Homo sapiens: one gene and its partners. The protein of the gene in region 4 purifies or fractionates together with the protein of the main gene of each other region. This does not show direct contact. Each region holds a gene or a part of one and is shown on either strand. Other genes may lie near its edges. The genes, in order: WDR70, ZMYM1, SH3PXD2B and RASA2.

Region 1 (5,788 bases), on a different chromosome or scaffold from region 4:
TCTCTACTAAGAATGCAAAAATTAGCCAGGGGTGGTGGCAGGGCCTGTAATCCCAGCTACTCGCAAGGCTGTGGCAGAATTGCTTGAACCCAGGAGGCGGAGGTTGCAGTGAGCTGAGATCGCGCCACTGCACTCCAGTCTGGGCAATGGAGCGAGACTCTGTCTCAAAAAAAAAAAAAAAAGTCGGGTGTGGTGGCGGTCACATGTAATCCCAGCTACTTAGGAGGCTGAGGCACAAGAATCGCTTGAACCCAGGAGGTGGAGGTTCATTGAGCCGAGATTGTGCCACTGCATTCCAGCCTGGGTGACAGAGTGAGATTCTGTCTCAAAAAGAAAGAGATTCTTCTCCACCTTCTAAACGTTAAAGTGTTGAACTCCCACATTCTGTTTAAGAAGGACAATCCTGAGCACACGATTAGCCTTGTAAACTTTAGACTGACAGGCCAGGTGCAGTGGCTCACGCCTTTAATCGCAGAACTTTGGGAGGCTGAGGTGGGCAGATCACAAGGTCAGGAGATTGAGACCATCCTGGCTAACACGGTGTAAACCCTGCCTCTACTAAAAATAGAAAAAATTAGCTGGGCGTGGTGGCGGGTGCCTGTAGTCTCAAATACTAAATAGCCGGGCATGGTGGCGCACACCTGTAGTCCCAGCTGCTCGGGAGGCTGAGGCAAGAGAATCGCTTGAACCTGGGAGGCAGAGGTTGCAGTCAGCTGAGATCACGCCACTGCACTCCAGCCAAGGCAACAGAGGGAGACTCAGTCAACAACAACAACAACAACAACAAAAAGGCAGAGCGCGGTGGCACGGGGCCTGTAATCCCAGCACTTTGGGAGGCCAAGGTGGGCAGATCACCTGAGGTCAGGAGTTCAAGACCAGCCTGGCCAACATAGCAAAACCCCGTCTCTACTAAATACACAAAAATTAGCCGGGTGTGGTGGCAGGCGCCTGTAATCCCAGCTACTCAGGACACTGAGGCAAGAGAAGAGCTTGAACCTGGGTGGCAGAGGTTGCAGTGAGCCGAGATCACGCCATTGCACTCCAGCCTGGGCAACAGAGTGAGACTCTGCCTCAAAAAAAAAAAAAAAAAAAAAAAAAGCAAAGGGTGTCGCCTGTAATCCCAGCACTTTGGGAGGCCGAGGCAGGCGGATCACTTGAGGCCAGGAGTTCGAAACCAGCCTGGCCAACATGGCAAAACGTCGTGTCTACTAAAAATACAAAAAATTAGCTGCGCGTGGTGGTGGACGCCTGTAATCCCAGCTACTTGGGAGGCTGAGACAGGAGAATCGCTTGAACCCGGGAGGCGGAGGTTGCAGTGAGCCGAGATCACGCCATTGCACTCCAGCCTGGGCGACAGAGGCTCCGTCTCAAAACAAAAACAAAAACAAAAAAAAAACAAACCAAAACAAAAAACCAAAAATTAGCCGGCACCTGTAATCCCAGCTACTCGGGAGGCTGAGGCAGGAGAATCGCTTGATCCCGGGAGGCAGAGGTTGCAGTCAGCTGAGATTACGCCACTGTACTGCAGCCTGGGCGACAGAGGCTCTGGCTTAAAAAAAAAAAAAAAAAAAGGGAAAGGATGTTATAGAAACTCCAGATACTACTTCTCCCCTCCAGTGGTCTGAGTTGCGCGGCGCTTTCCCGCCTGTCCGGTAGGGCGGTGCCGCGCAGAAAGCCGCGGTCCCTCTGCGGAAGGCGCCGCTCTTGGCTTCGGCGGCGCCGCTGTAGCTTGAAGGCGGTACTTCCTCCAGCATTTGCCGCAAGTTATTGGCAAGTTCCCCTGCAGTTGTTTGGGCTGTCCCTGTGGCTGGTTCTGGGGTGTGCGGCCAGCCATGGAGCGCTCTGGGCCCAGCGAAGGTGGGTTTCATGAGGCGAGTCCGGGCGGGGTGGGCCGTGTCGGGGGAGCTGGGGCGCCGCACTAACTAGGCCGCCTCTCTTTTCCTCTTGCTCCAGTGACAGGCTCAGACGCGTCGGGACCGGACCCGCAGCTTGCGGTCACCATGGGCTTCACGGGGTTCGGTGAGTGACTGCCCCAGGCAGAGACCCTCTTCCTTGTGCAGAGGTTTGAAGATCCGCAGAGTGGGAGTGGAGATCGAGCTGTCAACTCGGAATTATTGTAGCTCGGGTGCATACCTTGCAGTTTGTCAATATTCTTCTCCCATTTGTCTTCTATTCTGCGTTATCCGTTGGAACCAACTCAGATGACAGTTATGAGAGTCTGGAGAGAGAGGAAGAGAAAGGATTTTTCTAATTTTAAGTCACCAATAATGCTAAAATGAACATTTTTGTAAATAACAGCATTTGTACGAGGATTTTTAAAAATACGTAATTCGGTAGGGTAGATTTCTAAAAGAGAGTGTAGTTTATTCAGAAATATAAATACTTAAAAAGCTGAAAAATTGGGTATGTGCCTTTTAAAGCTTCTTGATGCTTATTGCCGTAATACCCATCAAAAAACTTGTTCCAGGTTATACCAAAGTTAACAGAATTAAGAATGCCATTTTTACCATATCCCTACCAACACAGAGTAGGTATTATTATTTAAAAAGAAAATTATTTAAAAAATGAAAACAAAACTTAGTAGACTGATACATGAAAAATGATTTCTCTTTATTTTCCATTTTAAAATTATAAATGCTGTTCATCCAAACATTGGGATTCTAACTTCCCTGAACCTTTTCTCAAGGTCTTCTTGTTTTCTTTTGACCAGCGTGTATTAATTCTATGATAGTAATTAAACAGTAGACTTACACATATTGGCCTTGGGTTGTGTTCACACATACTAGTTCTGTAGTTTCTCTATTCATTCTTTTTTTTTTTGGAGACGGAGTCTCGCTCAGTCGCCCAGGCTGGAGTGCGGTGGCAAGATCTCGGCTCACTGCAATCTCTGCCTCCCGGATTCACGCCATTCTCCGGTCTCAGCCTCCCGAGTAGCTGGGACTACAGGCGCCCGCCACCTCGCCCGGCTGATTTTTTTTTTGTATTTTTAGTAGAGACAGGGTTTCACCGTGTTAGCCAGGATGATCTCGATCTCCTGACCTCGTGATCCGCCCGTCTCGGCCTCCGAAAGTGCTGGGATTACAGGCGTGAGCCACTGTGCCCAGCCTTTTCTATTCTTTTTTTATTTTTTGAGATGGAGTCTCGCTCTGTCACCCAGGCTGGAGTGTACTAGTGCGATCTTCGCTCATTGCAGCCTCCTCCTCCCAGGCTTAAGCCATCCTCCCACCTTAGTCTCCTGAGTAGCTGGGACCACAGATGTGTGCCACCACACCTGGCTAATTTTTTATACTTTTGGTAGAGACGAGGTTTCACCATGTTGCCCAGGCTGATCAATCTCCTGAGCTCAAGCAGTCCGCCCACCTGAGCCTCTCAAAGTGATTACAGGCATGAGCCACCCCACCCGGTATAAATCCTTCATTTTAGTACATCATTCCTTTACTCAGGAGTGAGAAAGTTGTCCATATGTTTGTGCCAAATAGGGGAAAATTTTAAGAGTTTTGATAAAGTTACTGGGGGAGGAGGAGAATGTTTCCATGCTCATCCAGTTCCTTGTTAGAGGGCTGAGATTTCTGTTTCCCTCTTAGCTCCTTAAAGTACCTGCATTACTTCTCATGTTGCCCCTTTCGTCTTCAAGCCAACTATAATGCCTCAAATTCTTCTCAGACATTGGATCTCTCTGACTTCTTCTGCCATAGCTGTTCTGCATCTTTGCCTTTAAGGGCCAAATAGGATAGTTTCCCTATTTAAAAGTCCATAACCTTAATTATATTGCAAAGGGTAACTTTTGGGGCATTCTCCATTTTGCCTCCCCACATCAGTGTTGTTGTTTCATAGGGTAGGGATCTAGAGGAGGATGGGAAAGTTGCCTGGTTAATAGTACTTAGTGAAGGGATTGTCAGCAGAAGTTTTCTGTGACTCAAACTCCTTCTTCTGTGATATATTATGGTTATATTGGAGCCATGCTATAAACTAGACAAAGTAAGTGTTTATTGATCAGTATTGATCACCTAAAGTTTGGCCAACTTACTGCAAGACAATCACAGTCTCCCATTTGTTCATGTTTTAGGTAAAAAAGCTCGCACATTTGACTTGGAAGCAATGTTTGAACAAACTCGAAGGACAGCTGTGGAAAGAAGTCGCAAAACACTGGGTAAGAAGCTCAGATATTTGTTCTTTTATTGGTTTAAGTACTATGTATACCTCATGCAAGTATATTAAAAAAGAGAAAAGAATGTTGGCTGGGCGCGGTGGCTCATGCCTGTAATCCCAGCACTTAGGGAGGCCAAGGCGGGCAGATCACCTGAGGTCAGAAGTTTGAGACCAGCCTGGCCAACATGGTGAAACCCCATCTCAACTAAAAATACAATAATTAGCTGGGCATGGTGCAGGGGCCTGTAATCCCAGCTAGTCGTGAGGCTGAGGCAGTGGCTTCAGTTGAAGTCGGGAGGCAGAGGTTGCAGTGAGCTGATATACCCCCATTGCACTCCAGCTTGGGGGACAAGAGTGAAATTCCATCTCAGAGAACAAAGAGAGAAAAGAATGTTGTTATGCTACTTATCACTGTTGTTTTTTTTTTTTTTTGAGATGGAGTCTCGCCCTGTTGCCCAGGCTGGAGTGCAATGGCATGATCTCGGCTCACTGCAGCCTCCACCTCCCCGGTTCAAGCGATTCTCCTGCCTCTGCCTCCCGAGTAGCTGGGACTATAGGCACATGCCACCACGCCCAGCTAATTTTTTGTATTTTTAGTAGAGATGGGGTTTCACTGTGTTGGCCAGGCTAGTTTCGAACTCCTGACCTTGTGATCTGCCTACCTTGGCCTCCCAAAGTGCTGGGATTACAGACGTGAACCACTGTGCCCCGCTTTTTGTTTTTTTGTTTTGTTTTGTTTTGTTTTTGAGATGGAGTCTCGCTTTATTGCTGGGCTGGAGTGCAGGGGTGCGATCTTAGCTCACTGCAACTTCTACCTCCCCGGTTCAAGCAATTTTCCTGCCTCAGCCCCCCAGGTAGCTGGGACTACAGGTGTACGCCACCACGCCCAGCTAATTTTTGTATTTTTAGTAGAGATGGGGTTTCACCATGTTAGCCAGGATGGTCTTGATCTCTTGATCTTGTGATCTGCCTGCCTCCTAAAGTGCTGGGATTACAGGTGTGAGCCACCGCACCCGGCCCAATTTATCATTTTAAGACCAACAATGGGCCAGGTGTAATGGCTCATGCCTGTAATCCCAGCACTTTGGGAGGCTGAGGCAGGTGAATCACGTAAGGTCAGGAGTTCGTGACCAGCCTGGCCAACATGGTGAAACCCCGTCTTGACTGAAAATAGAAAAACTATCTGGGTGTGGTGTTGGGCCCCTGTAATCCCAGCTAGTAGGGAGGGTGAGGCAGGAGAATCGCTTGAACCTGGGAGGCAGAGGTTGTGGTGAGCTGAGATCGCACCATTGCACTCCAGCCTGGGCGACAAAAGCAAAACTCCATCTCAAAATAAAAAAAATAAAATAAAATAAAATGGGCGACAAGAGCAAAACTCCATCTTAAAATAAAATAAGATAAAATAAAATATAAAATATAAAACAAAATAACTAAAATAAAAAATAAAACGTTGTACAGCAGCAATATCCAGTATTTGGCAGTGTGCCTGACAAAAAATATTTTCAGTCTTTGGAAGAAAACTTTTTGTGGTGAAAAGAAAGCCATCTACATGTACTATTTTTTGAAAAAAACCTTTCATTATTTGTTTTATTTGAGACGGAGGCCTGCTCTGTCGCCCAGGCTGGAGTGCAATGGCGTG
Region 2 (5,232 bases), on a different chromosome or scaffold from region 4:
CCCACTACCACGCCTGGCTAATTTTTTGTATTTTTAGTAGAGACAGGGTTTCACCGTGTTAGCCAGGATGATCTCGATCTCCTGACCTTGTGATCCACCCGCCTCGGCCTCCTAAAGTGCTGGGATTACAGGCGTGAGCCACCGCGCCCGGCCCCCATATTATTTTTACTTCATGCTAGTCTGTTAAAATCTGGAGCTCAGTTGGTTTCCAAACTGCATAGGATCTGATTAGGCAGAAATGACTTTGGCAGGAAGGAAAGCAGTATGAGGACAAGTAAAGTGAGGAGGTTAAGGTGCAGCTGATTCTTTGCCTTGACATCTGTCTCCCTTTCCCTCTGGCCCAAAGAGGAGGATAGTGTTTTCTCCTGTGGTTGTTGTAGATCTCCCTTTGGCTGCAGCTGTCCTTTCCTGACCCTGAAACCACCTCCATGACTACATTCCAGCTTCAGGGACAATAGCCTCCTTCCTTGAACAGTCATTCCTAGAGCTCTCTTGGGCCTGCCCTTTCTTGCCTTTGGTGTGGCACATGCCAGCCACCTAGCTCTAATAGGGAATTATTGTTGTTAAATCAGTATTCTGTACCCCTCATTCCCAGCCTAGTTTTGAAATGTACTTGTGGTTGGAGTGCTAGGTTCACACTGGCCCCTAGCATTTGTGGGGTCCTTGCTAAGAGTATGAATGGAAGCCCACATACTCTGTGTCTAAATATTTAAAAGTTATAAATTAAGCTAACACATCGTGGAATAAAATGAGTTCCATCCTCCTGCCGTGACAAATACACCTTTGTAATGACCAAATAGAAAAACACGTGTAAAGCTGTGGTTTTCAGGACTGAAAGTAAGCAAATTTTCAATGATGACAGAATTCAATTTTATGTATTACGTTTAAACATTGTATTTGGGTTACTCATGGTAAATTGTTATCACAGAAAATATTGAAGATTTGAATTTCATTATATAAATCACTGTCATTCATAATGTGGCTTTTTAAAATCATTTCTTCAAGTCATATTTATATTCATACAGAATTTTAAGGTTTTTTCCCAAAATTTTCAATATATACAGAATTTTAAGGTTTTTTCCCAAAATTTTCAATATTGGGTTATTAGTTTATTTTATTTATTTATTCTGAGATGGAATCTTACTCTGTCACACAGGCTGGAGTGTGGTGGCGCAATCATATCTCACTGCAACCTCTGCCTCCCAGGTTCAGGTGATCCTCCTGCCTCAGCCTCCTGAGTAGCTGGGACTACAGTCTGGGCTATTTATAAAAAGCAGAAAATGACTGTTTGTTGCTAAATTTGTTCAACTCTGTCTCCAATCAAGATTGTAACTTAATCTGTAGCAGTAAAAAAAATAGTCTCTATATAAATTAGTTTTGAGATTATATGTCTGTGAATCTTATTCATCGTCATGCAGTTTCCTTTCATTATTGTAACTGCCTTATATTTCATTGAAATCTCATGCAATTTTTTTTTCAATTAAAAAATTCTTTTTTTTTCTTTTGAGATGCAGTTTCGCACTGTCACCCAGGCTTGAGCGACAGTGAGCTTGATCTCAGCTCACTACATCCTCCACCTCCTGGGTTTAAGCAATTCTCTGCCTCAGCCTCCCGAGTAGCAGGGATTACAGGCGCCCACCACCACGCTTGGCTAATTTTTTTTGTATTTTTAGTAGAAACAGGGTTTCACCATCTTGGCCAGGCTGATTTTGAACTCCTGACCCTGTGATCCACCCACCTCAGCCTCCCAAAGTGCTGGGATTACAGGCATGAGCCACCGCACCCAGCCTTTTTTTTTTTTTTTTTTTTTTTTTTGAGATGGAGTCTTGCTCTGTCGTACCCAGGCTGGAGTGCAGTGGCACGATCTCCACTCACAGCAGCCTCCATCTCCCAGGTCAAGAGATTCTCCTGTCTCAGCCTCCCAAGAGCTGGAACTACAGGTGTGTGCCACCACACCTGACTAATTTTTTGAATTTTGAGTAGAGATGGGGTTTTACCATGTTGGCCAGGCTAGTCTCGAACTCCTGACTTCAGGTAATCTGCCTGCCTCAGGCTCCCAAAGTGCTGGGATTACAGAGGTGAGCCACTGTGCCCGCCCAAAAATTCATTTTTTAACAGTAGTTTGAACCATCAGGGTTATATAAATACTATTGTACTAATTTTCCAGGAGGAATCTGGATGATATCCCCTGGAGGTCTATATGTGTATCTGGAAATAACTCTTGAAACTTGCATTTTCTTTTTTTTTTTTGAGATGGAGTTTCGCTCTTCTTGCCCAGGCTGGAGTGCAATGGCGCAGTCTCAGTTCACTGCAACCTCTGCCTCCTGGGTGCAAGTGATTCTCTTGCCTCAGCCTCCCAAATAACTGGGATTACAGGCATGCCCCACCACGCTCGGCTAATTTTTTGTATTTTTAGTAGAGACAGGGTTTCTCCATGTTGGTCAGGCTGGTCTCGAACTCCCAACCTCAGGTGATCAGCCCGCGTTGGCCTCCCAAAGTTCTGGGATTACAGGCGTGAGCCACCACGCCTGGCCTCGAAACTTGCAGTTTCTTTGTGATCTCGTGTTTTACTTTAAGAATGAATATGGGCCGAGGGCAGTGGCTCATGCCTGTAATCCCAGCACTTTGGGAGGCTGAGGCCGGTGGATCATGAGGTCAGTAGTTCAAGACCAGCCTGGCCAAGATGGTGAAACCCGATCTCTACTAAAAATACAAAACTTAGCCAGGCATGCTGGCTGGTGCCTATAATCCCAGCTACTCAGGAGGCTGAGGCAGATAATTGGTTGAACCTGGGAGGCGGAGGTTGCAGTGAGCTGAGATTATGTCACTGCACTCCAGCCTGGGTGACAGAGAGAGATTCCATCTCAAGAAAAAAAAATGAATGTGAATTTTGTTGTCTGCTCTTATCATATTTCTCTCTTTGGTTTAAATTAAAATATTTTATGGCTGGGCGCGGTGGCTCACACCTGTAATCCCAACACTTTGGGTGGCCGAGGCAGGCGGATCACAAGGTCAGGTGATCGAGACCATCCTGGCCAACATGGTGAAAACCCGTCTCTACTAAAAATACAAAAATTAGCTGAGCTTGGTAGCACGTGCCTGTAATCCCAGCTACACAGGATGCTCAGGCAGGAGAATCGCTTGAACCCGGGAGGTGGAGGTTGCAGTGAGCCGTGATCGTACCGCTGCACTCCAGCATGGGCAACAGAGTGAGACTCCATCTCAAAAATGTGTTTATGTGTATATATATATATATATATATGTGTGTGTGTGTGTGTGTGTGTGTGTGTGTGTGTGTGTGTGTGTGTATGTACATATATGTATATATATTTTATATTACTACCAAGTAGTATTGCCCAGCAGGAAGATGTGCAACATTCATCCTTTGACTATTAATACCTGTACTCTTTCATACTATGATTTAGCCCTAGTTTGGAAAGATGAGTAGGGCTATATTAAAAGAAAGTCTGTAGGACTTATTTTACTCTAATGTGCATCTTGTTGGAAAAGGAAGTAATGGATCTGTCACTAATACATGTTTTGCTCTTCTTATAGCCAAACAAATGTTGCATAGCATTTTCCCTTGCCTCAGAAATTTTCAGGATGCTTTCCTTTTTTTTTTTTTTTTTTGTTTTTGAGACAGAGTCTCACACTCTTGCCTGAGCTGGAGTGCAATGGCATGATCTCGGCTCACTGCAACCTCTGCCTCCCAGATTCAAGCAATTCTACTGTCTCAGCCTTCCGAGTAGCTGGGATTACAGGCGCCCACCACCACGCCCGGCTAATTTTTTGTATTTTTTAGTGGAGATGGGGTTTCACTGTGTTGGCCAGGCTGGTCTTGAACTCCCGACCTCCTCATCCACCCACCTCAGCCTCCCAGAGCGCAGGGATTTCAGGCATGAGCCACTGCGCCCAGCCTCCACTATTTTTATGTTTGTATGGTGACACATTTGAAGGAGTTGCAAGATGCCAAAGCTCATAGGTACTTTGTTTTGTTTTATCTTACGAATAACAATAATTGTACCTCACGTAAACCTCATTGGCTGTGATACCGCCACTGCACAAAACTCGGTGCTTTGTTTTTAATTGATGTTTAAGACTTGCATGGCATGTGTACTTTCAGGTGAAGGGAATCTACCTAATGACAAATAGTTAATTTTTAGTGAGTTTTGCTTTACTGTTTGTGTATAATGCTCAAATGGGCTGGACAGAGGCTGTATGAGCTATTTATTGCACTTGACTCTCAGGCCTTATTTAACTTTCTGCATTGGGATAGGAACTTTCAACAAAAGCTGAGCTAAAGATGGAAATGAGGGAAGGTGGTTGAGCCCCAATCACAGAAATAAAAAATAATGGCAGAATTACTTGGGTCTTTCATGTACTAACCCAGAATAAAACCATAGTCCTGGAATTACTCCTGTAAGAGGTTTTTTGTTATTTTTTTCTTTTTTTGAGCCCATTATTCTAAGTGATCCTGTAACAACTTCAACTTCTCCACATTTGTGTTAGTTATCATCTGCCCTCCATAATGATTAGTTGTAAGGCTTTTTTTTTTTTTTTTTTTTTTTTTGAGATGGAGTCTTGTTCTGTCACCCAGACTGGAGTGCAGTGGCATGATCTTGGTTCACTGCAAGGTCTGCCTCCCAGGTTCACGCCATTCTCCTGCCTCAGCCTCCCGAGTAGCTGGGACTACAGGTGCCCGATATAAGGCTCTTTTTTTTTTTTTTTTGAGACAGAGTCTCGCTCTGTCGCCCAGGCTGGAGTGTAGTGGCGCGATCTCGGCTCACTGCAAGCTCCGCCTCCCGGGCTCATGCCATTCTCCTGCCTCAGCCTCCCAGAGTAGCTGGGACTACAGACACCTGCCACCACGCCCGGCTAATTTTTTTGTATTTTTAGTAGAGATGGGGTTTCACCATGTTAGCCAGGATGGCCTCGATCTCCTGACCTCGTGATCCACCCACCTCGGCCTCCCCAAGTGCTGGGATTACAGGCGTGAGCCACCGAGCCTGGCCTATAAGGCTCTTTTTTAAGGATCTAGGAGACAGGAAGACTTGCACTCTGAAGCCAAGCTAGGGTGGCAGGAAGGGAAAGGGTTCCAAAGGATTTAGAATCAGAGGTAACAGCTACCAGATAAGTGGAAAGTAGGCCTCAGTCAAGGAAAAAGGAGAAAAGAAGGAACCAATCTGTCTTTGAAAAAGAGACCTTGCTGGGAGGGATAGCATTAGAAGCTAT
Region 3 (5,232 bases), on a different chromosome or scaffold from region 4:
CCTCTCAGAAAAGAAACCCCTGGCCGGGCGCGGTGGCTCACACCTGTAATCCCAGCACTTTGGGAGGCCAAGGCGGGCGGATCACCTGGGTCAGGAGTTTGAGACCAGCCTGGCCAACATGGTGAAACCCTGCGTCTACGAAAAATACAAAAAATTAGCTGGGTGTGGTGGCATGCGCCTGTAATCCCAGCTACGCGGGAGGCTGAGGCAGGAGAAACGCTTGAACCTGGGAGGCAGAGGTTGCAGTGAGCCGAGATCGTGCCATTGCACTCCAGCCTGGGCGACAGAGCAAGACTCTGTCTCGAAAAAAAAAAAGACCCTGCTTGGAGAAGGGCTGTGTCCGGGGTAAGAAATTGCAGAAGGAGCAAAGATGGCTGCGGGTACTTTGTGGCCCTTCTGGGAGAGGGATGGCAGCCACAGACTCAGCGCCAGGACGCAAATGCTGGGCTCCTGGGCCTGCAGTCCTGGGTTCTAGTCTTGGCTCTGCCACTTACTGCCTGAGTGGCCTGGGGCAAGCCACGTGCCTCAGATTCCACATCACAGAAGGAAAATGGTAAGAACAATTTAACACCCACTTGTAGAATTTTTGCAGCCGCAAGAGCTAATGCATACAACAGCACTTGGTAAATAATGCTGCTGCGATTAAATTAGAGTGGAGGTCACTGAGCCAGCGGGATGCACTTGACAGGCAGCACTTAATGAGTCCCACTGGAATCTCCAGGAAAGGCCACTGATAAATGTAAGCTGTTTATGTGAGGATGACTGGCATCTTATCAACGCTTGATAGCTCTGGTAAAAATTACAGGCCACACTGGGCATACGAGTCATCGTCAGCACATCCATGAATTCAACAACACTAATACTTAAGTCTGTATGTGAGGAACTGAAAATAGGGTAATCAATATTAGATGTATCAGTAAGATTTGTCAAGCTTACACTCTTTGCAAAGTATTGTGGTAGAAGCTCTGAACATGTGTGTTCTGAACCATGAGGAATGGGCGTTTTCATTTACTAGAGGGAAGCCAAGAACTACTAGGAATAAAAGCAAATGCAAGATCAGAAGCCGGGTGCGGTGGCTCACGCCTGCAATTCCACCGCTTTGGGAGGCTTAGGCGGGCGGATCACCTGAGGTCAGGAGTTCGAGACTAGCCTGGCCAACACGGTGAAACCCCGTCTCTACTAAAAATACAAAAAAAAATTAGCCAGGTGTGATGGCAGGCGCCTGTAATCCCAGCTACTTGGGAGGCTGAGGCAAGAGAATTGTCTGAACCTAGGACGTGGAGGTTGCAGCGAGCCAAGATCATGCCATTACACTCTAGCCTGGGTGACAGAGCAAGATTCCGTCTCAAAGAAAAAAAAAAAGATCACAAGAATGAGGGGAAAGAAAAGAGTGTGGGCTTTAAAACCAGAAAGACCTGGTTTCACAACTCCATTGCTTACTAGCTGTGTTACTAGAGGCAAATAATTTACCTAACCCCCCTGAGTCTCATCTATAAAACATGCTGATAGAAAAAAAAAAAAGAAAAACAAACTAACCAACCAACCCTATGATGCTGGTATTTTGACCTCTTGGGACTTCTGTGAAGATCAGTTATCAAGGAGGTAAGGTACCTGACACAGAAGAGGTGCCTATATCATCATCATCATCATCATCATCATTATCATAACACATCCTGAAGATAAACAGCCTAGACAAGTAACTAAGGTGTTACTGGTAGCCCTACTGCTAGAATGCTGTGGTTCCATTAATGAATTTTGAAGGCTAAGATAATGTTGCAATGAGCCAGGAAGCAAAACTGGAGAAGAGAAAAACAGAGCATATGGATCTATCATAAGAAAACAACATCTAGCCAGGTGCAGTGGCTCACGCCTGTAATGCCAGAACTTTGGGAGGCCGAGGTGGGCAGATCACCTGAGGTCAGGAGTTCGAGACCAGCCTGGCCAACATGGCAAAACCCTGTTTCTACTAAAAATACAAAAATCAGCCGGGCGTCATGTTGGGCGCCTGTAATCCCAGTTACTAGAGAGGCTGAGGCAGGAGAATCACTTGAACCTGGGAGGCGGAGGTTGCAGTGAGCTGAGATTGAGCCATTGCACTCCAGCCTGGGCAACAGAGGAGCGAGGCTCTGTCAAAAAAAAAAAAAAAAAAAAAAAAAAAAGGAGGCACTCAATACATGTGTATACAATGAAAGAGTATGAAGGGGCAGATTTTTCTATAATGGATTAAAACACAATTCAGAATTTTCCCAAATCTCATCCCTTTAGCCCTTCACTCAGATAATAGCAAAGTGAAAACACAAAAGGATTTCCTTCTAGTGAAACATGAAGATACTTCAATGCCTCTGGAAGCAGGGGCCAGAGGATGCAGAACTAGCCTCTCGACTGTAGTACACAGCAAGGCCTGGGCCAGATGTTGTGCCTGGTGGAGCTGCTGGCAAGCTGGAGTAAGGGAAAAGGAAGGAGGAGGATGGAAGAAAGGCAGGAAGGAGGATGGAGGAAAGGAAGGAAGGAGGGAGAGAAAGAAAGAAGGAGGAAGGAGGGAGGAAAGAGAGAAGGAGGGAAAGGAGGGAGGAAAGGAAGAAGGGAAGGAAAACAAAGGAAGGAGGAAGGAGGAAGGAAGGAGGGAGGGAAGGAAAGAAGGAGGGAAGGAAGAAGGGAAGGAAGGAGGGAAGGAAGGAATGAAGGCGTGCAGGCAGGCAGGCTATAGTCCTTCCTGGAATATAGCCAGGAAGGAAGGGAGGGGCCCTAAAGAGGTATGCTGGAGTGAACTGATCAATGGTGTCTACTGCCCTGTGCCATCAGACAGTGCTCTGTGCCAGGGACCAGAGCTGTGTTCTTTAAAGGAAAGAGGATGGTGACGACAACTCTTCAGGGCCTAGAAAAGCAGCCGCCACACACAACCATAGTAGGAGATCCAGGAGCATTTTATTTGTTGCAGAGATGAATAAATTGAACCTTGGCCTCCCAAGGTGAGGTGGGGAGGGTCTGACCAACTCTTACACATGACAGAGTGAATTTGGTGATACCTGTGATTGGCTCACCTGCTTTTGAAAGTGTCTCAAGAACCATCTTTGCCAAAGGTTTCCAAACCCTGGCCCTAGCTGCCATCCCCTTACTTACAGGTTTTCTTGCAAATATGAGAAAGAAATATCTTGAAGCTCTAACCCCATGAGGAAAGGAAAGAGAAATGCAGGAAGAGAATCTGGGGAACAAAGTAGACAAACAGAGAGAGTGGGAAGAAAAGGAGAGAGGAGAAGCAAGAACGGAGGTGGGAGGTGGTAAAGAAAGGCATACAGCCAGTCACACAAGACCACATACTGTGGGATTTCATCTATATGAAATGTCTAAAACAGGCACATCTATGGGGACAGAAAGTGGATTGGTGGCTGCCTAGGGGCTGGCAAGTTGAGGGGAAATGGAGGGTGGCTGTTGATGGGTAAGGAGTTTCTTTTTGTTCTGGAATTAGACAGTGGTGAGGGTTGTGCAACCCTGTGAATATCATAAGCCGCTGAATTTTACACTTAAAATTGTAAACTGTATGGTATGTGAACCATAAAGCTGTTAATCTCCGCCCCACCTCCACCCACCCAGTGAAGTAGGAGGTGACAGGGGAGAAGTAGGAGGTGATGCCTGGAATCAGGAATCACAAGTAGGCAAAGGAACACCAGGGCCACTCACCTCGACCTTCAGGCCTGCCTGGAAGCTGATGCCGTCTGGGATGGTTGTCTGGAATTCGGCGATGGTGTAATACTCTTCCTCCACTTGGGGCGGGATGGGCGGCTTCGGCAGGTTGAGGCCTCGAGGCTGGTACGATCACACACAGGGTTATCTCCAAGGCTAAGTGCACTCCTGCGACCCTGTGTCAGGGGGAGTCTAAGGGCCTGGGGCATGCAATCACCCTTAAGGGGGTGCTGGGGACCTAGTTGGATTCTAAGGGACAACACAAATAGGACCACGCAGTTTGTCACTCCTCGGTGAGACCTCACTGGCCCATCAGCTTTAGGGTGATGGGAAGAAACACGGGACATTTGGGTACAATCATGAGAATTTGGAGCAAGACAATATTCTCTGAAATAAGAGGCAGTGAGGGTTGTGGAGGGAGCTTAAGTTTATTAGTAGATCTATCTGGGTTGGAAACACTGATGGTGGGAGTGTCCTTGGGCAAATCACCCCCTTCTGGAGCCTCAGTTTTCTCTCCTGCAGAGTGGGCATAACAGTGTCTACCTGGTGGGGTTGCTTCAAGTATTAAATTAGTTAATGTTGTGAGGCAATCGGCACGCTGCATGGCACGCAACAGGTGCTTGATAAATAGCAGACATTAAAAAAATACAACCCCAAAAGAGCAAGACCCCGTCTCAAAAACCAATGCAAACAAATAAAAAAAACCCCAAAACCCAACAACAACCCATTGGGTTCAAAGTATTGGCTAAAAAGGTACCTAGAGAATTTTACATAATGGATTATGAGCGCAGAATATCAGAATGGGACCACAGATGATATTTGTGTCTCATCTCAGCTTGGGCCTCAAGTCGCCTGAGAAGACTGATCTAAGACCAAGAGAAGGGCCCAGGGAGCAGAAGGCAGGTCCTGAGGCCCAACTGTCACAGGAGCACTCTGGCCCCGCGGGCAAACTGTTTCACCTGCCTGCACCTCCGTCTTTCCACCTGCGAGTGGGACTAGCATTTCTACAGCCTGCTTCACAAGGCTGTTGTGTGGACAGGAAAGAGAGCATTTCTGGAAGGGCGAGGGGTGTGTGAGGGGCTAGTGGACACCCCTCACAGCCCTCAAGTCAGTGGCCACTCCCCAGTAGCGAGGATCCACTTACAATGGTCATGTCCCGGCGAGGAGGGGGTCTCTGCCTCATCTTTGGTGATCCTATGGAGAAATGAGAGCTTATTACATCTTGTGCTACAGATGAGATTCCTGAGCTGGGTGCCAGGTCGGGTCTATTTTCTCCTGCAGAAGATTGAACACAGGCGTCTGCATGCTGCTGCAACCCTCCCTGTGAGAACAGCCTGGGCAGGAAGGAGCTGCTCACGCGTGGCTCATAGTTGGCTCAGGACTCTCTCGACGTAGCTTTTCTTGCATCTTTTCTACACAGGAATGAAAGGGGATGGTGCTGGATCCTCAAGTCATGGAAATTCTCCAGAAAGGGCAAAAAGCAAAGTCTTCAGAATAACACAGAGATGGGTCCCAATCCAGCTCTGAGGCTCACAGCTGCTGGCATTGGAC
Region 4 (5,832 bases):
CCCATTTTATATATGAGAATATGAAGGCCCAAAGACATTAACAAAAGTTGGAAATTAGGTGAAGATTCAAACCCAGGTAACTAACTTTTTCACCCAGCCTCTAAGCTCAAGCACTTAACCATACCCTATAGATCTTCCCTACTCTGTCAAATAACCCTAGGCTATTCTTGGTCTGAAGACACCAGAGAAACTAAGTGAGTTTTGGAACACATAGTCCCACAGATCTCGCACTGTACCACACATCTGAAAATTCACACAAAATTTTCCCATTTGGCTCTCTTATTGATCTGGTATTCCTTGAGTAGATAAGCCCACACATATGGTGGCATGGGTGCTCTCCGCAACATTTTTACAATCTAATGTAATTGGATAAGAGGAAACTTAACAAGTGCTAATCAAAAAGGAGGTCACCAAATAACAGCATGAAGCCTGAAGATACATAAAGGAGGAAGCCCCAATCCCTCTTTTCTGTTTGAATACGGTTTTTTTTTTTTTTTTTTTTTTGAGGGGAGGAGGGAGCATGCAAATGTGTTTCAGGTGTTCTAGCATACTTGCTACTCGCTACACAGGAGTGCAGACCGAAGAATGGAGTCGAGTACACCCCTAATTTCCTTTATCAAGGGTTCATATGACAACCTTAGGATATCAAACAACCAAACTCACCTCTTGAAAAAGTTTAAGGAAGCAGACAATTCAGAACTGTCATGGTTTCCTAGCGCAAACTGCAGCAAATCCAGGGTTGCTGACAATATTTTGTCTTATAGATGGATCTCGAATTCCCTGGGTTCGTTTGAGCGCATATAAAACACCTGAAACATATTTGCATGTCCCTTCTTCCCTCCTCCCCAGCCCCCCGGCAAAAAAAAAAAAAAAAGTACACTCAAGCAAAAAAGGGGTATTGGGGCTTCATCCTTTATATATATTGAGGTCTCATGTTGTTATTTTGTGACCTCCACCTTTTTGGTTACCACTTTTTGTTAAGTTTCCTCTTGTCCAATAGACAAATATCTGTCCAACTGACAGATATTTCACCTTGTGAAGTATAAGGGGAAATAATTACAGGAATGAAATCCCTAAAGAAGGTTATGGACTATTATCTCTTGAACATTCAAGATACATAAACCAATCCATCCTCACTTTTCACTGGGGTGATGTGCAGTTTAAAAGTCCTATGCAAGTCCAGAAATAAGAAAATTTCTTCAGGCTAATTTTCAGCCCCTACAGATCTCTAACTCTCCAGAAAAGAGGCTCTCAATCAGTAGTATAAAATCTGCCAGCACATCTCCTAGTGGGCACTATCAGGCTTTCTTCCAAGGTTTCCTACTGTGGTGAAGAGAAAAGCTGACACGGTTACACCCTCCCCAAGCTGCTTAATATCTTGTCAGAACCACCACCATCTCATTTCTGTGACCTTGACACCTGCTAATGACTCTTCCAACCCCTCAGTCCCCACCCTACAAAACCCACATGTTAGTTTCAGGGAAACAGAAAACAGCATCTCTTCACAAGGTTCTGAATGTCAACCAACTGTGGATTACATCATTTAAAAGGAGGACAAAGAAATGGGAAGAGAGCTTCTGTATATAAGTATACAAATACATTTTTTTTTTCTAGAAAGCAGACACTCCATAACCTGAGCTATAAGATAAGCAATTTAAAAAGCAAGAAACTGACTAGGATAACAGATAGAATACTTCAACTGTGGTTAAAGCAGTAATATCATTCCCAGCAGCTGGATGATCAATTTCCAAGCCAGGGTTGCTTTAAACCATAGAAACAAAGTGGTTTTTTGTTTTTCTTTTTTTTAACGTGTAGACCCAAGTTTCACTTACAAAACTGTTCTTAGTGGTCTTTGGCATGGGGCAGACAAAAGCACAGGACAACTAAGTCCTTCTGGAAACCCTAACCCTCAATTCCAAGACATGTGTATATGTAGTTCCATGGTAAAACCTGCAGTTACGTACCAGTGAGTCTCCAATAGACAATGCCTAGCATCAAGTGGCACTAAGAAAGTGGTAAAAATCTGGAAAATCATATAAAGGGAGAAACTTTGGCCCATTTACAGTTTTCCCAAATGTTAAATTAGATATATGCAAAAGTTGAAAACAAAATTTTCCCCTCAAATATAAGGTTACAGAAAAAAGAAAAAATAAATAAAATTTAATCTGAATTCTGAAAAGGTTTTATGCCCTAGAAAGTAACTTTAATTTTGGGAACTAAGATCTACCTCTCTGGTGTCACTTTCCAGGTTTTAAGAACTGTAATCTCTTAAGAGCCCCAGGACTACCTCAGGGAATAAAAAGATAAGAAAAGTTAACATGTCTGCTTCTGAGGTTTCATAAAATCCCAAATACGTGAACCACCTGAAAAGAGGAAAAGTGGGAGAATGTGAGCTCAACAGTACTGGTATTAGAGGAGAGGAAAATTTTACATCCTGCCCAGGAAAGAATTGTTAGCCACTTTAATGCAAGTCAATTTTCTTCAAAGTGAAAAGTACGCCCTCATAATTGAGGGTTATTTATAAGAAACATGAAGCATGTTTCCAATCTGAGAATACTGCATGAAGAAAATAATGCTAATTTTCGACAAATGCAAAAATAAATGTTATTGATCTCTCTTACAAACAGAAAACAAAAAGCACTTCATCTAAATAAACCACTGTGAAAAAAAAAATGGCAACCTGACACCAAAGGGTCGTTTTTAAAACTAAAATGTTCAAATGACAGAACTCAAATAATCTGTCCACAGTAATGCTCGGACAACTCTGAGCAAAATTTCGTATTTAGTCAACTGGTAGGCTCGCTCACTAAAGTAGCAATTACACGCATGAGAAGGAAGGGAATTAAGCGGGCTGAGTGCGGGCTGGGTGATTGTGTTTTGAGACCTGCTCACAGGAAGCCACTACATCCTGCCTTTAGTCCCGCCTGTCACGCCGTCCCTCGATTCAAGTCCCGGCCGCAGCGAGGTGGGGCAAGTACAGGTGTCCCGCCGAGCTCCTCCCGGGGCGCTCACCCGCGAACAGACCGCGCGGTAGCCACTCGGGCCCCAGGGCGGCCCGTTTCCTGCAGCTCAGGGCGCCTTTTTCAACCTCTCCCAGGCTCGCCGAGCCCAGGAAACGAACAGCCCCCTCCCCTCGGGCCAGCCCCACTTCCCAGCCCGCCACCTCCTCGGGCCGCGCCTCCGTATAATTACTGCTCGGCTCCCACCGCGGGGCCACTCCCCAGCGCCCGCAGCCGCGCGAAGGCCTGAGTCTGAGGGCGGCCGGAAGCTCCTCACGCCCCCGGACCGCGCCCCCGGCCGCGCCCCGGACTCCAGCGTCCCCGCGTCCAGGCCGCTCCCCACGACCGAGCCCCTCACGCCGGCGCAGCCCGGGCTCTCCCACCCCAGGCCCATCTCCAGCTCCCACTCCCTCCGGAGAGCAGCAGCCCCGGCCCACGCCGCCCCGTCGAGGCGACGCCGCCCCCCAACACACCCCCTTCCAGCCTCAACCGCGCCCGGCCCAGGCCCCCTCCCGGGCCCGCGATCCCAGCGCAGCTCGGCGCCGCCACCGCCGCGAACCCGCCGCCCCCTCAGCCTCGCGCCCAGCGCCGCCAGGGCGTCCCCTCAGCCCAGCCCCCGCTTACAGATCTTGCCCCGCAGGCTCTGCAACACTCGAACCTCGCGACTGTCCTGGTCCCCGGCCTCGGGCTCTGCAGTCGCACTCGCCGCTGGCGCCTCGGAAGAAGCCGCCGCAGCAGCAGGCGCCGCCGCCGCCATGGTGCCGCCCGGCCCGTGCCGCAGCCCTGCCGCCTGCGTAGCCGGGCGAGGCGGAGCCCAGCAGCGGCCTAGGCCCAGGCCAGCCGCGCGCCTGGCCCCGCCCCCGGGCCTCGGCCCGACTCGCCCCGCCCCGCCCCGCCCGCCGCGGCCCCGCCCCCGCCCCCCCCGGGTCTCCATTCACCGCCTTCGCCACCCCCGAGCCGGGCTACCCTGCAGAGAACCGTACTCCCGGCTTGGGGCGCTGGCTAAGGGTAGCTCCCAGTCGTGGCTCTGAGCGGCCTTAAAATCCCCACCAGGAGAACGCCCCGGCCCTCCCGTGATCCCTAAATCCTCCCGGGAATTGGGCTCCCCCAATGAATAGACCTGCACATCTCCTAACGCTCGCGGGAAATACAGGCCCTTCCCAATCAGGGAAACTCCCTGTGGGAAGAAAATAGAATGGAATTTGGCAGGTGGGTGGACCTCAAAAGTATCTTATTCAAAAGGAGGCAAGAGATGCATTTGAGGCTCTTCCAGTATTATCCAAATACTCCCCGCCAGCAAGCCAAACTCCTCCCACACAAATACTCTTTACTAGGACCAATTCTCTGCAAAACCTGGTTCAAGAAAAGGACCAGCCACCCCCAACTCCAGCGTGAGTGCAGTGCCTGAGACCCTCTCATAGAGAAATTCTGAAGCATTTACCATCACTTTTGTATTTCAGGAACAGAAAAAGCAAAGAAGGGCTCCCCCCCGCCACCGCCACCACTACTAAAAGTTGGCTTTGTTAAAAAGTTGACTGACCCTAGGAAATGTGTAAATCTTTGACTAATTGTTAGCTTTATTTCAAGGGAACTCTTTACAGTGAGTAAACTGCATGAATAATACCCTGGTATGTGATGAGGAAGACAATTTCCTGGTGTTGAGGTTGTTAACTACGCTGCCCTAAGAAGGAAGAAACTGTGACTTAATCGGGCAGGGTAATTCTTTTCCAGGGCAACAACAGGAATAAGCCAGTCAGTCAACAAATATTTTTTGAGGGTCAGACATAGTGATGGCCTCAGACCTCAGAGACTACACAAAGGTCAAGATGAAGAGAGCTCCAGCTCATTCTGGAGGGAGACACAGAAAAGGCCAGAGGCACTGGGAGATAAGAAATAGGACGGGGAAACCTGAAAACTGAAGACAAACGCGCCGCCTGTGCAAAGGCTGGACAGCCCCAGAGAATGGTCAGAGTTTAACATGGACCTGGCCAGCGAAGCTTCCAGTTCTGCCTGTGTTGCAGGTGACTTCTATTTCCCCATGTGATCTTTACACTTGTTGGATAAAGTGAACCACTTCCTCTTATATGAATGTTTTGCTGTCATTTCAAACATAAGTCCAAAACTTAATTTCCTGTCTCCCTTTCCAAATCTGAGTTCACATCTTATACTGTTACTCAGGCCAGAAACTTTGACTTTTTCTTATCCCTTGTCCCAATGCTGTTTTCAGTTGCCACATCCTTCTGACTCTGCTGAAATCTCTTCCTTCCTTTCCATTCTCTGTCATTGCCCTTGTTAAAATTATTCTCATTTAAAGAGTATCAACGTGTTACAGGGTTTTTTCCCCCTTATTTTTAAAGGCATCCCTTTTTAGAATCAGACATAGAGCCTGTTTCTACCCCTTTTACATTTGGGCAAGTTACTCAACCTTCCTAAACCTGTTTCTGTTTCTTCTCTTTCTTTCTTTCTTTTTTTTTTTGACAGTCTTGCTCTGTTGCCTAGGCTGGAGTGCAGTGGCACGATCTCAGCTCACTGCAGCTTCAACTTCCTGGGCTCAAGCTATCCTCCCATGTCAGCCTCCTAAGTAGCTGGGACTACAGGTGCGCGCCACCATGTCCAGTTAATTTTTGTATTTTTGGTAGAGATGGGGTTTTGCCATGTTGCCCAGGCTGGTCTTGAACTTCTGGGCTCAAGTGATCCATCCGCGTCAGCCTCCCAAAGTGCTGGGTGTAAGCCACTGCGCCCGGTTGAACCTGTTTCTTTAACAGTAAAGTGGAAATGCTAAACTTTCTTCTTTGAAGGGTTGTTATTAAGATTAAATAAGTATTGGGAGCAG

The links.
Region 1: the proteins of RASA2 (region 4) and WDR70 purify together in Homo sapiens (affinity purification with mass spectrometry; one large-scale study listed by BioGRID and IntAct). This does not show direct contact.
Region 2: the proteins of RASA2 (region 4) and ZMYM1 purify together in Homo sapiens (affinity purification with mass spectrometry; one large-scale study listed by BioGRID and IntAct). This does not show direct contact.
Region 3: the proteins of RASA2 (region 4) and SH3PXD2B purify together in Homo sapiens (affinity purification with mass spectrometry; one large-scale study listed by BioGRID and IntAct). This does not show direct contact.

Annotation. Positions count from the first base shown.
Region 1 is NC_000005.10:37,377,536-37,383,323, forward strand, and holds the start of WDR70 (WD repeat-containing protein 70), read left to right. Parts: upstream 1-1,782; 5' UTR 1,783-1,832; coding exon 1,833-1,857; intron 1,858-1,953; coding exon 1,954-2,019; intron 2,020-4,066; coding exon 4,067-4,150; intron 4,151-5,788.
Region 2 is NC_000001.11:35,085,194-35,090,425, forward strand, and holds part of ZMYM1 (zinc finger MYM-type protein 1), read left to right. Parts: intron 1-3,555; exon of another isoform or gene 3,556-3,966; coding exon of another isoform or gene 3,967-3,982; intron 3,983-5,232.
Region 3 is NC_000005.10:172,342,458-172,347,689, forward strand, and holds part of SH3PXD2B (SH3 and PX domain-containing protein 2B), read right to left. Parts: intron 4,876-5,232; coding exon 4,826-4,875; intron 3,805-4,825; coding exon 3,679-3,804; intron 1-3,678. UniProt on the Homo sapiens protein: Adapter protein involved in invadopodia and podosome formation and extracellular matrix degradation. Binds matrix metalloproteinases (ADAMs), NADPH oxidases (NOXs) and phosphoinositides.
Region 4 is NC_000003.12:141,485,008-141,490,839, reverse strand, and holds the start of RASA2 (ras GTPase-activating protein 2), read right to left. Parts: upstream 3,814-5,832; 5' UTR 3,757-3,813; coding exon 3,624-3,756; intron 1-3,623. UniProt on the Homo sapiens protein: Inhibitory regulator of the Ras-cyclic AMP pathway. Binds inositol tetrakisphosphate (IP4).